2 separate regions of the Homo sapiens genome follow, and region 1 is linked to region 2. A link means that fine-mapping ties the variant in region 2 to the expression of a gene that starts in the linked region. Tissue or cell type: fibroblasts. Region 2 holds a variant in brackets; the other region holds the start of a gene. All regions are shown on one strand. Distances are between the middles of the regions.

Evidence for each region. PIP is the estimated chance that this variant, and not a neighbour inherited with it, causes the effect.
Region 1: it holds the start of BET1L, and the variant in region 2 is fine-mapped to the expression of BET1L in fibroblasts (GENCORD, PIP 0.95).

The regions. Positions count from the first base shown.
Region 1 is chr11:206,349-209,046 of GRCh38, forward strand. It overlaps BET1L (Bet1 golgi vesicular membrane trafficking protein like), which reads right to left and starts at 1,051. Exons shown (of 4, transcript NM_001098787.2): 1 at 955-1,051. The coding sequence starts at 973. It overlaps RIC8A (RIC8 guanine nucleotide exchange factor A), which reads left to right and starts at 1,360. Exons shown (of 10, transcript NM_001286134.2): 1 at 1,360-2,590. The coding sequence starts at 2,507. RefSeq lists enhancers at 277-778, 1,325-1,946, 1,802-1,971, 1,947-2,566, 2,641-2,698 and silencers at 723-782, 893-1,012, 2,074-2,272, 2,273-2,562, 2,633-2,698.
Region 2 is chr11:244,628-247,237 of GRCh38, forward strand. PSMD13 (proteasome 26S subunit, non-ATPase 13) reads left to right here. Exons shown (of 13, transcript NM_002817.4): 6 at 48-134. Among named protein-coding and RNA genes, the nearest start is that of PSMD13, 9.0 kb to the left of the region's middle. The variant CGTGTGTTTGT/C (reference allele first, on the strand shown) is at 1,068.

The DNA.
Region 1 (2,698 bases), 38 kb before region 2:
TGTGACACTTGCATCCAGGGAGGTCACCATCTGTGTATGTGGAGCCCATTCTTATAGAAAAAGAGTAAACTCTGCTAAGAGCATAGAAAAGACTTGGGAAAAGTACCCAGCAAGGCAGCAGAAAGGCTCCTGCAGAGACGACCTTTGAGCTAGGTCCTGAAGAGGTGGCAAGGAACCAGGACAGAACATTGGGAAGGCCCTTTACCGCACAGAAAATGGCTGAGCAAAGTTCCCAATTTCCCCGAGACGGGAGCTGAGGTCGACCAGGAGCGGGATCCTTGGTCTGCATCCCGCATGGGGCTTCCTGCAACACCCAGGGCAGAGTGCTCGCAGAGGCCTGGCCTGTGACAGGCTGGGCCAGGGGATAAGGAAGTTCTGTCACATCAGGTGCGTGAGAACCACCTCCTCCCTAGCTTCAGTGTCAGGAAGGGATGCCAGCGTCCTTCCAGCCACTTCATATTTATAAATTCCTTTAATCATCATAACACCTCACAGAGACAGGCATCAATATCCCACTTTGCAGACAAGAACACGGGCTCCAGGAGGGGAAATGGGGCCACCGAGGCCAAAGTAAGAGTCCTGCTTGGACACCAGCGGAGCACAGCCTCTACTCCTAGGGCCTGGCCTCGGGACCTGTCGAATGCCGACTCCCGCTCACCCCGAACCCATGCAGAACGATCTCACAGGGGGCGGCGGGGAGTGGGGAGACCCCGCTGCTGCGCGACCCCTCGCTGGAGCTGCTGGGCCGCCACGCGCGCCTTCGGTCCTAACGGCAGTGCCGGCCGAAACCCGGCCCTGCTCGGACCCGGAAGGATCCGAATCCGCCCCCCTGACAGGGTCCTCTCGGCCGAGGTCACCCCAGCTGGGCCAGAGGCAGGCGCACGCGGCTCTACAGGCAGCGGCGTCGGTTTCGGCCCGGCCCTGCCCCCAACGGCTCCGCTCTCCCGCGCTCACCCCGAGCCCAGTCCGCCATCGTGCCCTGCCCCGGCTCCTCGACGCGGACACCGACGCGGCCACAGCCGCCTCAGACGTGGCGCAGTCGCGGGGAAAGAGCTTCCGGCCCCGCCCCCAGCTAGCGATGGCCCCGCCTCCGCACCGACCACGCCCCTAGATAGCCCAGCCCCTTCCGCTTCGGGCTCGCTGACTTCCGGCTTAGGGCCGAGGGTGGGGAACTGCCGGGCGCGGAAGCGATGGGCATATCTGTGGCTTATTTTCAGCACTGTCGCGCAGACAGTGGCGCGATCTCAGCTCACTGCAGCCCCCGCCTGCCGGGCTCCCAAGGTGCTGGGATTACAGCAGCACCGCGGATGTGACGTTTGGTGTTCCTGTGAACGTGGGGCGGGGCGGGGCCGTTTGCTTGCTCAGTGCCTAGACGATGGTGGTGGAAAGACGCTTCTGTGGGTTAGGTCCTAACGGTTAGGAAGGATTCACAGGCGGGTCATGAGGAAGGAGCAGACCCCTCGGGCAGAAGCCCGCGAGGAGCACTGGGTGTGGTGGGGGCAGGGGTGCCTCCTCTGTCAAGTGGAGATCGGCGCCTCGCTCGTGCCTGCGAGTGCGCGCCGCGTCGAATACAGCCGTACAGAACGCACTACAGGAAAGTGAAGCCGGGAGAGAGACTGGGAGGCGGCGCGGGGACTGGGGGCCGTAGACGCCTTTGCTCCCGGGCACTTGTTAGAAGAGCGAGTGGATCGCGCTTCCTGTGCGTCACTGAATCCTCATGACGGCCACTGAAACGGACACGCAGGATCTTTGCTTTTCAAGAGGGAACTGAGTCCAGGCCAGACTGGGTTGCTCCCCTTTCTCTCGGCCCCTCCACCTTTGCAAGTGCTGCTCCTTCTGCCTGGAGTGGCTCCTCCAGTCTTTTCCCGGCTCACTTCCCACCGTCCGGTGTCAGCAAAAACAGCACTTCCTCACAGCCCGTTGCAGCCCAGCAGTCGCCTTTTGCTTCTTTTGAAGCACAGCCCTGTGACCGCCTCGTGTCCTTTTGTTTTTCCTTGTCCCCCTTCCCCTCTGGAACATAAGCTCCACAAAGGCAGGGACCTGGGAATCCCGTTCGCCTGCATTCCCCAGCAAACGCCTAACGAACCCAATGGCCCAGGACTGAAAATTCCTTTCCACTTCGGCTTTCCCCTCTACATCCCATCGGTTCTGTGGAGCTCGAGGGGCGTCACTGTGTGTGTGGCAGGGCACGGTGGGGGCTGAGATCGTTTCCTGTTGGAACTTCTGGCCCAAGAAGCGCGGGTCACAAGGAGAGGGGTCAGTTCGGTTCAGAGCGACTCAGCCCCTCGACTCGGGTCTTAAAACCTCCGAGCCGCCAGTTCTGCCTCAGGCCGCGCCCCCTTAAAGCGCCACCAGACGCTGCGCCCCGTTAAAGCGCCACCAGACGCCGCGCCCCGTCCCGGCCTCCCCCGCGCGCTGGCGCGGGGCTTTCTGGGCCAGGGCGGGGCCGGCGAACTGCGGCCCGGAACGGCTGAGGAAGGGCCCGTCCCGCCTTCCCCGGCGCGCCATGGAGCCCCGGGCGGTTGCAGAAGCCGTGGAGACGGGTGAGGAGGATGTGATTATGGAAGCTCTGCGGTCATACAACCAGGAGGTAAGCGGCCGCCTGAGGCCGGGGGGCGGGCACGGAGGGGGTGGGGCAGGGTCGTGCGCGGGTAGCAGGGAGGGCGTGGGTGAGGCAGAGGCTGTGTCAGCAAGCGTA
Region 2 (2,610 bases):
AACTGCCCACATTCTGAGGTTTCTTGTTTTTGTTTTTGATGTCTTAGGTGAAAAGTAGTGATGAGGCAGTGATCCTGTGTAAAACAGCAATTGGAGCTCTAAAATTAAACATCGGGGACCTACAGGTTACAAAGGTGAGATCACCATAATACAGATTTATCTTTGGTTTAAAATTATTTAAAACCCTAGGAAAAAAAATAACCTATTTTTCTTCTTTACTGTTTATTTTAAAACATTTTTACATTACAGAAAAGTTGCAAAAATAACACAAAGAACTACTATACCCCAACCTAAATTTCCCATTGCAAACCTTTTTTTTTTTTTTTTTTTAAAGACGGAGTCTCGCTCTGTTTCCCAGGCTGGAGTGCAATGGTGCAATCTCGGCCCACCGCAACCTCCGCCTCACGGGTTCAAGCAATTCTCCTGCCTCAACCTCCTGAGTAGCTGGAATTACAGGCGCGTGCCTCCCTGCCCGGCTAATTTTTTTGTATTTTTAGTAGAGACAGGGTTTCGCCATGTTGGCCAGGCTGGTCTGGAACTCCTGACCTCAAGTGATCCCTCTGCCTCAGCCTCCCAAAGTGCTGGGATTACAGCCGTGAGCCGCTGCGCCCAGCCCCCCCGATTGCTAACCTTTTACCGCTTTTGCCTTTGTGTGTGTCTGTAGCTTTTTTCCAAAACCACTTAGGAGTAAGTTGCTGATACAATGCCTGTTGCCCTTAAACAAAAGAGCACTCCCCTGTGTGACCACAGCACATCCGTCTAATAATGACTCCACATGGCCTCAGTCAGCCCAAAGCACATTGGTTCTCCCTGACCAAGGTCAGCCTACACACCACTGGCATGTCACGTGCTATTTCTCCATCTTCCTTCTGCCTCCTAAATGTTGTTGAAGTATCCTGTCTATTTTTATGTCTTTCTTATGTTCAATTATGTTTTGGTGCAGTTGGGAGACAGGTATGGATGTGGGTGGCAGTGAAACCGACATGTGGCTGGTCCACCTGGTTGAACCAGAACGTGTGTGTGTGTGTGTGTGTGTGTGTGTGTGTGTGTGTGTTTGCATGTGTGTT[CGTGTGTTTGT/C]GTGTGTTTGTGTGTGTGTGTTTGTGTGTGTGTGTGTTTGCTAATCACAATGTTAAAGAAAATATTGGGGGTAAGGGTTAAAGTGTTCATGTCCTCATTGCCCTGAAAAGATACTTTTTATTGTTTATTGTCAGTCCTAACCCATATGCATACTTAGTGCATTTTATTTTCAAATATTTTAAGACATATTGAAAGCTATAAGTCACAGTACAGAATGCTGTAATAGGCATCCATGTGCCCCAACCAGCTTAGGAAGGAATGAAGCCACACGGCACAGTCAGGGTCCCAGTACCCTTCAGACCACACTTCTCCCCCAGCCAGGCTCCCTCTCATGCCCATGCATTTCCTTGTCCTTCATTAAATAGGGGTGTGTAACTCAAGCGTTTTAACATTGGCTCAATACTAGGTTTCAGAGTCATGTGGGTATGTGTAACCAATGTGCTGTTACTCCTATACGGTATTTCATTGTATAAGTGTTTCACAACATATGTATCCAGTCTCCTATTGAAGAGATTTAGGGCCAGGTGCGATGGTCACACCTGTAATCCCAGCACTTTGGGAGGCTGAGGCAGGTGGATCACAAGGTCAGGAGTTCAAGACCAACCCAGCCAAGATGGTAAAACCCCGTCTCTACTAAAACCACAAAAATTAGCCGGGCATGGTGGCGGGCGCCTGTAGTCCCAGCCACTCGGGAGGCTGAGGCAGCGAATTGCTTCAGCCTGCAAGGCGGAGGTTGCAGTGAGCCGAGATCGCACCACTGCACTACAGCTTGGGCAACAGAGCGAGACTCTGTCTCAAAAAAAAAGGGAGATTTAGGTTGTTTTTTTTACTATCACAAACAGTACTGCCATAAGTATTTCTGTGCCTGGTCCCTTGTGTGTGGGCAGAATCTCACCAAGATGTATGCCTAGAGACTACAGGTACAAGCTGTGTGCATCTCTGCCTTTCCCAGATACATGCTCCCTCAGCACCATATGAGTACTCTGGAAGCTCCATGTCTTCAACACCTGATAGTTTCAGGCTCTAACTCTTGCTGATCTAATAGAAGTGAAATTATATCTTGTTGGGGGTTTAATTTGCATTTCACAATTACTAGTGGTTTATTGGCCATTCTGTTTGTGTCCCCAAATTTGTCAATTGCCTGTTAATGTCTTTTGCCCATTTTTCTACTGTGTTGCTTGTCTCCTGACTCATTTGTAAGTGTTTTTATATTTCCTTGGTCATAATTGCTGGTGGGTTATAAATGTTGTAAATATTGTTTCCCAGTCTGTAGCTTGTCTTTGTACTTTTTTCTGTGTTTTGGATTAAGTTTTCCATTTTAACGCGGTCACATTCATCAGTCTTTGCCTTGGTAGTTGATGCTTTTCATCTCACAATATATTACTTTAAAAATCTTAGCCAAGCACAGTGGCTTGAACCTGTAATCCCAGCTACTACAGAGGCTGAGGTGGGAGGATCACTTGAGGCCAGGAGTTCAAGACCACCCTAGGCAACAGAGTGAGACCCTGTCTCTAAAAAAATAAAATAAACTTT